Linked DNA regions of Homo sapiens: regions 2, 3 and 4 are each reported to be linked to region 1. The links are microRNA targets in miRTarBase. Many come from high-throughput screens and were not tested one by one. Region 1 holds a microRNA gene; each other region holds the end of a gene's coding sequence.

Region 1 (3,242 bases):
TCGTAAAGCTGCATTCAGCTGGGCACTTGGCTGGGGCATTTTAGTAAGTTTTCACATGGCATCTCTATACAATATTCCATCCCCGAGGGCCTCTCCACATGGCCTATTTCTCCACTGGGATAACCTTGACTTAAGCATGGAGGCTAGATTCTAACAGGGAGAAATCCAAAAGTACAAGTCCCAGTGAGCAAGTTCATATTTAATCTTTGTTTGTTTCACCTTTACTAATGTACTATTGATAAAAACAAATCACATAAGCCAGATGCAGTGGTGTACACCTGTACTCTCACCTACTCAGGAGGCTGAGACAGGAGGGTTGCTTGAGGCCAGGAGATTGAGGAGGGAGTGTGCTATGATCACACCTGTGAATACTGCACTCCAGCCTGGGCAATGTAGCCAGACCCCCATCTCTCAAGACACAAACAAAAGAAAACAAATTATATGGCTAAGCCCGAAACCAATGTGAAGAGGACCACCCATAGGCATAAATCCTGGAAGGTTTGGTTCACTAGCAGCCAGCTATGTAACATATTACCATATCAAATGAAATCCTATGGTGCTTACCAGAGTACCTCCTCTTTAATGGCTCCTGATCTCCAATTCTTGTCATCTCAGCCCTGTAAGCTCTCTTCAGCTTTTGGGCTTCTCAGTTGCTGATTAGGAATCAGCAAAAACATTAAAGGAAAAGCAATACCAAATGATGGGTTCACCTCTCTGTACTTCCTTTCTCTTTGGGATTGGTCCTTTGAGTTCACGTTTTCTTAGAAACTTTCCAGTGCCTTCAAACTGGTATTTCCTGTATTCTTCCCAGCTTTTCTAGTTGTTCTCAGTAGGAGGGATGGTCTTAAGCAAGCTGATCTGTATTGCTGGCTCACAGTGGCCAGGGGAGTAGAAAGAGCTCAAAGAGAAGTGACTGGTTGGGTCCCAGGACTTCTAGTCTCAGAAAATCCCTCAGTCTCTAGCAGGGCAGGGCAGAGGAGCCCCAGAACCACCTTTCCTCAAAGTACTTTAGCCTATGCAAGCTTAGACTGTTGTCCTTTCACTGTTAACCAGTATTAACCAGTTAACCAGTTCTTCTGCAGACAAAAGCATCAGGAAGTACCCACCATGTACCAGTGGGCCCTTCTTGATGCTCTTGATTGCAGAGGAGCCCTGCAACCTGAATAAATCCTCCTGGAAGGTAAGTGGGGGAGCCCTAATTAAAACTGTAATTCAATGTCTCGATATTTTGGCAAATGAAGGTTCAGGTGAGTTTTAATTAGTTTCAGAAAAAGCAAAGTAAAATGATATTTAATGTACTGGATTTTGATGGATACAAATCTATATCCATTATATACTATATGTTTGTTTTTTCTAAAAAAAAAAAAAAAAAAAAAAAAGGCAACCAGAAAATTGTCATCAATGTTCATACCTTGAATACTCTAATTGAGTATTGACTTTTTTTGGTAACAGCTTTCTTGAGATGTATAATTTACATACCATACAATTTACCCATTTAAAATGTACGATTCTAGTTTTCAATGCATTCACAGATATGTGCAACTATCACTGTTGGCAATTTCAGAACATTTTCATCACCTAAAAGGAAACTCTGTAGCCTTTAGCTATCACTCTCCCATTTCCCTGTTTCCCCCAACGCCCCCAGAGATAAGCAACCACTAATCTACTTTTGGTCTCTATAGATTTGCCTACTCTAGAAAATTCATATAAATGGAATCTTATGTGATCTTTTGAGTCTGCTTCTTTCACTTAGCATACCTTTACAAGATTTATTCATGTTGTAGCATGCATTAGTACATCATTCCATTTTATGGCTGAATAGTATTCCATTATATGGATATTTTGTTTATCTATTCATGATGGACATTTGAGTTGTTTCCAACTTTTGGGTATTATGAATGATGCTATAAACATTTAAGTAAAAGTTTTTGTGTAGATATATGTTTTCATTTCTCTTGGACATAAACCTAGGACTTGGATTGCGGGTCAAATGTTAATTCTATATTTAATTTTTTGAGGAACTGCCAAATTGTTTTCCAATTTTATATTCCCACCAGCTGTGTATGAGGGTTTTGATTTCTACACATCTTCTCTAATACTTAGTAATAAGTATTAAGTATCTGACTTTTTTTTTTTTTGAGATGGAGTTTTGCTCTTGTTGCCCAGGCTGGAGTGCAATGGTGTGATCTTGGCTCACTGTGACCTCTGCCTCCAGGGTTCAAGTGATTCTCCTGCTTTAGCCTCCTGAGTAGCTGGGATTACAGGTGCCTGCCACCACGCCTGGCTAATTTTGTATTTTTAGTAGAGGTGGGGTTTCTCCATATTGTTCAGGCTGGTCTCGAACTCCCAACTTCAGGTCATCCGCCCGCCTCAGCCTCCCAAAATACTAGGATTACAGGTGTGAGCCACTGTGCCCGGTGTTTGTATTTTTTTTTTTTTTTTTTAGTAGAGGCGGGGTTTCACCGTGTTGGTCAGGCTGGTCTCGAACTCCTGACCTCAAGTGATTTACCCTCCTTGGCCTCCCAAAGTGCTGGGATTACAGGCATGAGCCACCACACCCGGTCAAGTCTTGTCCTTCTTCAGGACATTTGTTTCTAAATATTTTACCTTTTGGTGCTATTATAAATGGAATTGTTCTCTTAATTTCACTTTTGAATTGTTCATTGCAAGTGTATAAACATACAATTGAATTTTATGTATTGATTTTGTAACCTGCAACCTTGCTGAATTTGTTTATTATTTATAATAGTTTTTGTGAATTCCTTAGGATTTTTAATACGCAAGATCATGTTGTTATCTTGTATATTAATGATATATAAGATAATATATCTTTCCAATCTGGTTGTCTTTTATTTATTTTTCTTGCCTAATTGCCCTGACTAGAACCTCCAGTAGAGTGTAGAATGGAGGTGGTAAGAGCAGCCATCCATGTCTTGCTACTGATCTTATGGGGAAAATACCCGGTCTTTCACCATTGAGAATGATGTTAGCTGTGGGTTTTTCATGGATGCCTGTATCAAGTTGAGAGAGGTCTCTTTTGTTCTTTTTTTCCTTATTATTATTTTTTTATCATGAAAGGTATTGGATCTTTGTCTCCAAATGCTTTTTCTTCATCTATTGAGATAATCATGTCATTAAAAGAATTCTGTTGATATGATGTGTTGCATTAATTGATTTTCAGATATTAAACCAACCTTGCATTCCTGGAGTAAATCCCACTTGGTCGAGGTGTATAATTCATT
Region 2 (3,246 bases), not on the chromosome of region 1:
GCCCTAGAGCTGACCTCTCTTAACCTCTTTTTCTACAAAGCGGTCACACATTGGAGGTGAACTGCTTAAATGTGTCTACAGGTTCCGGACTGTCACTCACACCAGATCCTTGTTAATAAATGTCCTTCCTCCATAAATATCCTCAAGTCACCACAGCACTCCCCACAACACTCAGTAACCTGATAGGACTCTATTAACAGAGATCTCTGATTCAGAGTCTCGGCAGCAGGAGAGCCTGGACTCTGACGCCAGGCTGCCTGGATCTGAATCCTGGCTCTACCTCCCTCTTCCAAACTGTGTAGCCTTGGGCAAGTAGCTTTAACCAGCCGGTTTCCTTGTCTGTAAAGTGGGGATAATTAAAGCGCTTGCCTCAGAGGCTTACTGTGAGGATTTAAAGCTACTTCTGTAAGGTATCTAGAAAAATAATGGCCCATGGAAATACTCAACAAACATTAGCTATTATCTTATACCTCAGTATCTCACCTCACTTGCCAACTGGAAAGGAGGAACAGAACTCCCACTGTGATTTCCAAATCTCTTTAGACACTGAGTAGAGCCTGCAGAGGCCCCATGACCAGGGTGCCTCCCAGGGAATTAGAAGTGAGGCCTATCCAGTTTTAAGTTCAGACATCTCTCAGCTCCCCTTTTACCAACTGCTTAAAGTGGTATGCCTCAGCCAATACTCAAAACCTTCTACAATGTAACCACAAGGTATGATTTCAGGTTAATGTCCCAGTAGTTCCCTAAATGAACCCTACTCTTTCATCAGACTGTTACTTATATCCTATTCCGTAAACACACCCCGGCCCTCTTTTACCTATTGAAATCAGACATCCCTTCCAAATTCTGCCAGCTCAAATAACTTGTCTCTTTTATGCCTACTATACAATTTCTACCATTATTACAAAGCTGAACCCATTACCTTTTGTAAATTCTAAAAATGCCTTCTCCCACGAGTGTAAGTTTGTGTGCAGACTACCTATTTTTCTACATACCCCAGTGTTTGGCACAGTATCTTGCACATGGTAGATGCTCAGGATTCACTAAATTAAACTGGAGAATGGTCTCAATTTCATTATTCCATTCTTACCCAAGGTACCTCTATGTCTGAAAGCTCAAAGACATGGCTTCTTAATTCTGGGTTAGATTCAGCATTAAGACTTCTTGTTTGATCCTCCATAAGGCTACAAGCCTAGCAAGTCATTTAACCAGAGGAAGACCTTTGAGAATTATTTGAAAAAGATATTTACATTGAAATGCTAACTTTAGAGACAAAACACTTTGATTATTAGACAATAAAACTCAAATGTTCCTTAAACTAAAATGAATAGGCTAGGTGAGGTGACTCATGCCTGTAATCCCAGCACTTTGGGAGGCCAAGGTGGGATGATGGATTGAGCCTAGGAGTTTGAGACCAGCCTGGGCAAAAAGTGAGACCCCTCACTAAAAAAAAATTTTAAAAAAATAGCCAGGGCATGGTGGCGTGCACCAGCAGTCCCAGCTACTCAAGAGACTGAGGTGGGGGGATCGCTTGAGCCCGGAAGTTCAAGGCTGCAGTGAGCCATGATCATGCCACTACACTCTAGCCTGGGCAACAGGGTGAGACACTGTCTTAAAAAATAAAAAATAAAATAAAATGAACAGAATCTTTCTATCAGCTCTTAATCCTTTGCATATTAAGAAGTACTAGAGCTATGACACTATTCAAGGAAAGGCGTCTTTGAAAATTAGAATAGTTATAATAACTATGTCACCTATGTGATTACCTGATATTTCATGTAATCTGTTACATGAAATACTGTTCAAAACACCTCTCTCTCTAGCCCTGATAAGAGGTTAAACCCTTGACAATTCCTGACAAAACTGAACCAACAAGCATATTACTAGTTTTAATCATTTTACCACAATTATAATCAAGTACATTCTCATTTTAAAATATTCTAGAAAATATTCTAATGTTGACTAATTAGACTGAAAGTCAACATCTGTCCATTCTAAATGTTAGTAGTCTACATACTGACTTTCTACCTTTTAAATAAATGTAATATTTGCTCACATCTCCTAATTTTTGTTTGGGTTTTTTGTGAGATAGTGAAAGAAGAGTAAGCCTTGGCAATTATCTTAAATAAAATACATTCTGTTTTTATAAGGCAAGAGATTCGTATATTTTTAAATATATTTTATTACATAACCTACTTGGATAATAATTACAAAAGCTTTAAACAGTAATTCCAAGTAGTGAAAGGCAATTTCCTTTAAAAAAAAAAAAAAAAAAAAAAGACCAAAAAGTCCACATTAGGTTTTGCTGCTTTATACACAGGAATGATTTATTTTACATACTAGTCAGTTACAACATTAGCCTGTAAAATGAAATCCATTTTTTAAGGTCTCATAAGGCAGAATAAACTTCATAATATTATGCTTTCACATTAGCCAGTCTGATAAAGCATAAACAACTTAAGACTATGGTAACAGTTTAAAATAAAATTTACAGAACAGGCACTTTGAAGTCAGCTACTGTGTGTAACTTCACAGTTAACGTTACTTGGACATATCTCATTTCATCAAAGGTTATCACCCAGTGAAGCAAATGTTCCTTTGATGCAGACGCACAAACAGATTTAGGTTCCAAACACTGTATTCTGGTTGTAATACATGCAAGACAGACCCTAAGTTAGAAAAATCTTCTGAAAGAAAATGAAAAACAAAAAGCAGCCAGAAATGAAAGCATTTACAAGCACTTGAATAAGGCCTTTCAATGTTAAATCAGTGTTTTAAATCCCTTCATTCTCAGGTAAGGGATTAAGAGGCCGAGAGAGATATCGTCTGCGAGGGTGAGGATACTGGAGGTTGGCAGTGTCAGCATCGCAAGAGTGCTCTACCAGAGGAGGAGGAGGAGGAGGAAGGAGCTGGGCATAACTGGACCATCTCGATCCAGCCCGTGGGGAATCCAGAGGGGTAAAGAAATACCTGAAACAATGAAGACAGGAACAAAACACCAAACAAAACAAAAACAGGAAAAAAAAAACACAAGAAAAAGAGAAAAGTAGTAAATACAAAGAGAACCAAAGAGGAGAAAACACATGCTAGAAAAAAAAAAAAAAGCTTTAGTATATTCATGCCAAAACTAACAGAACATAATAGCACAAATCAAGACCCTTACTCAAATCAAGATTGCTTAAGCAAGTATAGAAACTTGAAAGGAATACAATCTGTTAAACTTAAAATGTTAAAAAATATATATAA
Region 3 (3,246 bases), not on the chromosome of region 1:
GCCAGGGGAAAGAAAAGTGCAAGATTATCAAGTGTCAGGTACAGTAGGAAACTAATAAAATCCTGCTGCATATAATAACTGGAAAGAAACACAAAGAGGATAGCAGTGTCAAATGAAGGGTACTCTAAATGGGAGACATATGAGCATATGTATAAGCCAATATGAAAAAAATCAGCAGATTGAATATTATTCAAGAGATGAAGGCTACTCTAGAAAACTGTGACAATGTTATAGCAATACAAATTATCTTGCCACTTCATTTTTTATTTAAATATGTGATAGTTTAAGCAGTAGTGCCTAAGATAATGCTCTACTCAGTAGACACTCATATGTGTGATTATTGGATGAACAACAACTCTGAGCTTGGAAAGCCTGGTTGAAGCTGCCATTGCAACTGGCCGTATTAAGTCCTTTGTATCCTCACTGTTCCATACTAGCTCAGCCTATGATGTGGACTTCAGCAAATGTGTAAGCAAATCTTTGTGCATGATGTGTGTTAAATAGAAGCATTAGGCAAAAAAGAATGTAAAAGTAAATGGGCTTTGTTTTGTTTCCTTTGCTGTTCTTCCATATATTATCTATTCTATTTTAGATTTACAAAAAGATTTCTGAAGACAGAGCTCCTCAAACCATTGTGGATATCTTCTGCCTTCAACCACAGATCAAATACTTCAAGAGCCATTTAATAAATATGGCAGAACTATATATGTGTCTTAAACCTCAAAGTAAATTTTCCTTGAGAAATAATTTATGTTGAAAAGATTTCCTGGCCAAGTGCAGTGGCTCACACCCGTAATCCCAGCACTTTGGGAGGCCGAGGCAGGCGGATCACCTGAGGTCAGTAGTTCGAGACTAGCCTGGCCAACATGGTGAAACCCCCGTCTCTACTAAAACTACAAAAATCAGTCGGGTGTGGTGGTGCATACAGTAATCCTAGCTACTTGGGAGGCTGAGGCAGGAGAATTGCTTGAACCCAGGAGGCAGAGGTTGCAGTGAGCTGAGATCACAGCCACTGGGCGACAGAGCGAGACTCCATCTCAAAAAAGAAACAAAACAAAAAAAAAAGTAAGATTTCCTGAGACGACCAAGGAGAGTGTCAAGGTTCCTGGAAGGAGAAATAAAAGGAGGCATAAGTGGATTGCAGATAATTTTGTAAAATTCAATATTCTACAAGGATAATTCTAAGGCTTCTGATATAAATACCCAGTTCTACTAGTTGCCATATATAGAGGTAAGTGAGCAGTAATAGGACTGTCATCTCAGCTCACTTGATACGTCATATGTTTGGGTGAATGATGGTTTTGTCCTTAAGTTTTAGACATTTAATTATATCTAGAGGGCCAGGCACAGTGGCTCATACCTGTAATCCCAACACTTTGGGAGGCCAAGACAGGCAGATCACCTGAGGCCAGGAGTTCTTTTTTTTTTTTTTTTTTTTTTGAGACAGAGTCTTGCTCTGTCACCCAGGCTGGAGTGCAGTGGCACGATCTTAGCTCACTGCAAGCTCTGCCTGCCAGGCTCATGCCATTCTCCTGCCTCAGCCTCCCAAATAGCTGAGACTACAGGTGCCCGCCACCACGCCCAGCTAATTTTTTTTGTATTTTTAGTAGAGACGGGGTTTCACTATGTTAGCCAGGATGGTCTCGATCTCCTGACCTTGTGATCTGCCTGTCTCAGCCTCCCAAAGTGCTGGGATTACAGGTGTGAGCCACCACACCCGACTGAGGCCAGGAGTTCAAGGCCAGCCTGGCCAACATGGTGAAACCCGGTCTCCACTAAAAATACAAGAAAATTAGCCAGGTGTGGTGGCGGGCACCTGTAATCCCAGCTACTAAGAAGGCTGAGGCAAGAGAATCACCTGAACCCATGAGGTGGAGGTTACAGTGAGCTGAGATCACGCCACTGCACTCCATCCTGGGCAACATAAATAAAAATTATAAAATAAATAAAACGTATTAAACTTGTGAAAATACTTGGGACTTTTTATGTATCTAGGTACTTCAGTTTTTAAAGTTTGATTTTGTGAGATGGGTTCTAATATGTCCGATTTCTCTTGCCCTGTTTTACAACTAATCTAAACAAAACAGTCATTCTAGTTTATATTCTGTCTTCCGAGAAACATTGAGAAGCAAGCTGTCAGGCTGGTGCTTTTAATGACAATGAAAATTTTCCTTCCTTTGCATTTCCTTTAACATTGTTTCCTCTACAATCAATCTTTTCTTATCTTCTGGTTTATATGAAACAGACTCTATAATGCAGTCAACACATTGATTCCTTGACCTATATTTTAAGAAAATTCCTGCTGGGTGCAGTGGCTCACACCTATAATCCCAGCACTTTGGGAGGCCGAGGCAGGTAGATCACTTGAGGTCAGGAATTTCAGACCAGCCTGACCAGCATGGTGAAACTCTGTCTCTACTAAAAATACAGACCTGGTGATGCACGCCTATAATCCCAGCCACTTGAACCCGGGAGGCAGAGGTTGCAGTGAGCCGAGATTGCACCATTGCACTCCAGCCTGGGCAATAAGAGTGAAACTCCGTCTCAAAAAAAGGAAAATTCCTCGTTGTTTGGTTTTTTCGTTTGTTTATTTGTTTGTTTTTGAGCCAGAGTCTCACTCTGTCATCTAGGCTGGAGTGCAGTGGAGCAATCCGCCTCCCTGCAACCTCCACCTCCCAGGTTCAAGCGATTCTCCTGCCTCAGCTTCCCGAGTAGCTGGGACTGCAGGTGCACGCCGCCACGCCCAGCTGATTTTTTGTATTTTTAGTAGAGACAGGTTTTCACCATGTTGCCCAGGCTGGTGTCGAACTCCTGAGCTTGGGCAATCCACCTGCCTTGGCCTCCCAGGTGTGAGCCACCTCACCTGGCCCAAAAACTCTTCATTATTTGAGCTTATGTGTACTATAGGTTATTAAGTCTTCAGGTTCTAGAAACAGTGGGTCGATTAAAACTCCTGAATACAAAATTACTAGAGACTCATTATTCCAGAACTAATCAGTAAAGAACTCAGAAGGAGAGTGGAAAGACTGGTATGCTTTTAAAAAGAGACTTTTTTTTTTTTTTTTTTTTTTGAGACGGAGTCTCACTCTGTGGCCCAGGCTAGAGTGCAGTGGCGCCATCTCGGCTCACTACAAACTCCACCTCCCAGGTTCGCGCCATTCTCCTGTCTCAGCCTCGTGAGTAGCTGGGATTACAGGTGCGTGCCATCATGCCCAGCTAATTTTTTGTATTTTTAGTAGAGATGGG
Region 4 (3,000 bases), not on the chromosome of region 1:
CTTTGTAGAACATTATGAGACTTCTTTAAAACACTGAGACTAAAGCAAATGAACTGGTTATCAAACTGAACACAAGTCAATTTTTTAAATGTAGAAACTGCACCCAAAAATGAGTTCCTGAGACTGAAGGTCCTTATTCCCATGTTGGAGCATTCTTTTTCTGAGCAATTTCCCTTAGTCAAGCAAACAGAAAACTTTCTCCACATTGTACTAGTTGGGCATTTTTACTTATCTTCCTCACCAAACTCCAAAAAAAGTGGGCTTGTCAAATAACTGTAATTCAAGTAAATTTCAACATTAATCTCTACCAGACTAACAGATCCACTCATCACAGAAGTATCATGAACTGTTAAACTGGTACCAGGTCTGGTTAAGACTGCAGGCTTATCGCACATGCCTTTAAAGAGGACACACCTGATTTTTAAGCTTTGACACCTGCACATTTTAAGTTTCCATGTCTAGTATTTGTACAAACTAAATGAGGTGAAATTTTCAGAGTGTAAAATCTAACAGAAATAAAGTAAATCAATATGAGTTATGTGTTAGACTTTCATTCGTTTTCCTGTCTTCATATTACTAACGTGCTTTTTTGTTCAATCTCTTTGCTGAACAGATAAATTTTATCAACTTGTGTGGTGTAAAAGGATGGCCATTAAAGTTAACTGGTCCAACTCTGTCATTTTACAGATAAAGAAACCAAGACCCTGAAAAGTTTAATGAAAAAGCTGGGAGCCAGGCAGTTTAGCATTCAGGTACCTTTGACCTTTCTGCTGGTTTGAAAAACCCATACCCACAGGCTTTTGCATGAACTATACAACTCCACACAACAGATGTTAAAATTAATGTAATTAAATAGTGATGTATTTCACATAAGGTAAATATAACAAATGTCTGTAATTTAAACTATTCTTAGAAAATATTAGCCCTTTTTGGTCACTGCTAATAGTGTAACTACAGTGTTTGGTCTTGCTTTTCTAAGGGTAACTGATTTGCAGTTGCTACTTTGAGGATGTTTATTTGTCCACTGCAGAAAAAAAAAACATGTTAAATACGATCATGTATTCAATCATGTATTATGTACTGAATTTCTAAGTTATTTTTACATACATGTAGATTTCCTTATGCTTTTAATATAAGTGAAATGAATTTATTCAGAGAATAAAATATTACCTCGATATAAGTTGTTGGCAGCTTGAAAATTAGTCACTTCCATATAAAATGGGAAACCTTTTCTAGAATAGAAAGGGTGTCCAGGGTAACAAAAATATCAGGAAGGTTTTAAGTAAAATTTGATTAGTCTGCAATCTGAGGTATAAGAGAAAGGATGAGCTCAGAAAATTAGAAGATCTGAGTTCAAGTTTTAATTCCACTCCTTGCTGGCTAGGTAACAATGAAGCAATTCAATAAACTTCTGGGTTTCAGTTTCTTATCTGCAAAGAGCTAACACTTATACTACTTACCTCATTAGATTATTGAGGATGACATACACTAAAGTATATGAGTGGTTTGTAAATGGAAAGCATACCACAATTATTATTATCCCAATAATTATTAAAATATAGACCTACAAAAAGTAGTAAATAATTCACTTAGTGACAGCAGGCATGCTCACTAGAAGAAACATAACTCAGAGGGTAAACCATGCAAACATTTTAACTTTCAATGGCAACGCTAAAAAAAAAAGTACAAAGCTATAAAGGAACGTTTTTAGAGAAAGCACTGAAGACACACATTTTGCTGACCTAAAAGATTTTAAAATGAATTAGAATAATTTACATCATATAAAGAGGTATTTAGTCTTTAAGTGGAGAAAGTTGCTAGTCACATGTAAGAAAAACAAGTATTATGGGCCTTCCTAAGACAAATGGAATAAATTCCATCACTTTTGGCTTTTTTATAAACCAGACTTCTAACAAATAACCATATTAATTTTCCAGTAATCAAACATATCCTAAAAGAGGAAAAAGAGAATGTCTACTTTTAAATCACATCCAATGTGAATTTGCGTGAATGCAAGGCATAAAATACAGTTATTATGACTCTACAGGCACCTGAAAGTTTTAACTACCTTTCATGCTTACTTTATATTCCATAAAGAATAATGGAAATACAGGGAATACTTCAAATATGTATTTTTTACAAATCTGTTTTATGTAGTTCTTATTCTTGTAAGATAATATTCCACTGTGGCAGCCTTGTTTTTTTGTTTTGTTCATAATATTAAGTAGCCCATTAACCTTTCCCTTTAAACAGGCCTTTTGATGTTAGTTCTTATACCAAAAAAAAAAAAAAAAAAACCCAAAACCAAAAAACAAACCAACAATACATGAAGATGTAAGGGAAGAGATTAATGAGATACAATTCATTAAGTATAAAAATATGTTGTTTCAAATTCAGAATAATTTAATAACTCTTCGTTATTTCATATGTATCTGGAAATGGGACAGATACGTGTCCTGATCCTGTCACAAGAGGTAGAATTCCAGCATTTGGTACGACGTTCCAAGACAGGGTCAAAGTGACATTCCTGTTTCCCCTATAAAAAGATATAATAAACACAAGTCATCAGAGACACTAGTAGTTCAAAAAAAATTTTAAGACAAACACTGAGATGTCAAATACTTTATTTATAACCATCTATTCCTAACAGAAATCCTAATATGTTAATCTGCAAAAAGAACTATTTTCTCATGTCACTTAAAATCCAAGGACAATGCTAGAAGACAGGGGCACTACATTTACTGATATCCCAGGATGACCCATCTAAACTCACAGCTGCAGTTAGAACCATCAACCGAAAAGTTTAAATGATTAAAACAGTAAATGTAAAAAGAGACGAGCTAAGAATCAGAGCAATGATTTGAAGCCTAACTCTGTCAATTATCTAGATGGACAAACCTTAACAAAATTCTCATGTTCTGAAATTTTCATTGCAAATACAGACGTTTGGCTTGGTCGAAATAGCTTTCTTCTAAAATTATTTCCAATGTTTACCACTAG

What was found. Region 1 holds the annotated microRNA hsa-miR-4422 (AAAAGCAUCAGGAAGUACCCA, at 1,085-1,105, shown strand). A microRNA usually pairs through its seed, bases 2 to 8, with sites in the 3' UTR of a target mRNA and lowers its output. Matches are read on the target gene's strand: a 7mer-m8 pairs with bases 2 to 8, a 7mer-A1 pairs with bases 2 to 7 and ends in A, and an 8mer does both.
Region 2: miRTarBase lists SEH1L as a target of hsa-miR-4422. Seed matches in the 3' UTR shown: 7mer-m8 at 2,725-2,731 and 8mer at 2,443-2,450.
Region 3: miRTarBase lists PRIM1 as a target of hsa-miR-4422. The part of its 3' UTR that is shown has no 7-base or 8-base seed match.
Region 4: the mRNA of SPCS3 is a reported target of hsa-miR-4422. Seed matches in the 3' UTR shown: 7mer-m8 at 1,517-1,523 and 7mer-A1 at 41-47.

What each region holds. Positions count from the first base shown.
Region 1 is chr1:55,224,572-55,227,813 of GRCh38, forward strand. MIR4422 (microRNA 4422) reads left to right here and starts at 1,070; the gene lies at 1,070-1,152. The region is part of intron 1 of MIR4422HG (MIR4422 host gene); the gene reads left to right.
Region 2 is chr18:12,986,586-12,989,831 of GRCh38, reverse strand. SEH1L (SEH1 like nucleoporin) reads right to left here. Exons shown (of 9, transcript NM_001013437.2): 9 at 2,301-2,970. The coding sequence ends at 2,775. Among named protein-coding and RNA genes, the nearest start is that of CEP192, 3.2 kb to the left of the region's middle. RefSeq lists an enhancer at 1-151.
Region 3 is chr12:56,729,081-56,732,326 of GRCh38, reverse strand. PRIM1 (DNA primase subunit 1) reads left to right here. Exons shown (of 13, transcript NM_000946.3): 13 at 593-747. The coding sequence ends at 612. Among named protein-coding and RNA genes, the nearest start is that of NACA, 5.4 kb to the right of the region's middle.
Region 4 is chr4:176,327,734-176,330,733 of GRCh38, reverse strand. It overlaps SPCS3 (signal peptidase complex subunit 3), which reads right to left. Exons shown (of 5, transcript NM_021928.4): 5 at 1-2,536. The coding sequence ends at 2,404. Among named protein-coding and RNA genes, the nearest start is that of SPCS3-AS1, 8.7 kb to the right of the region's middle.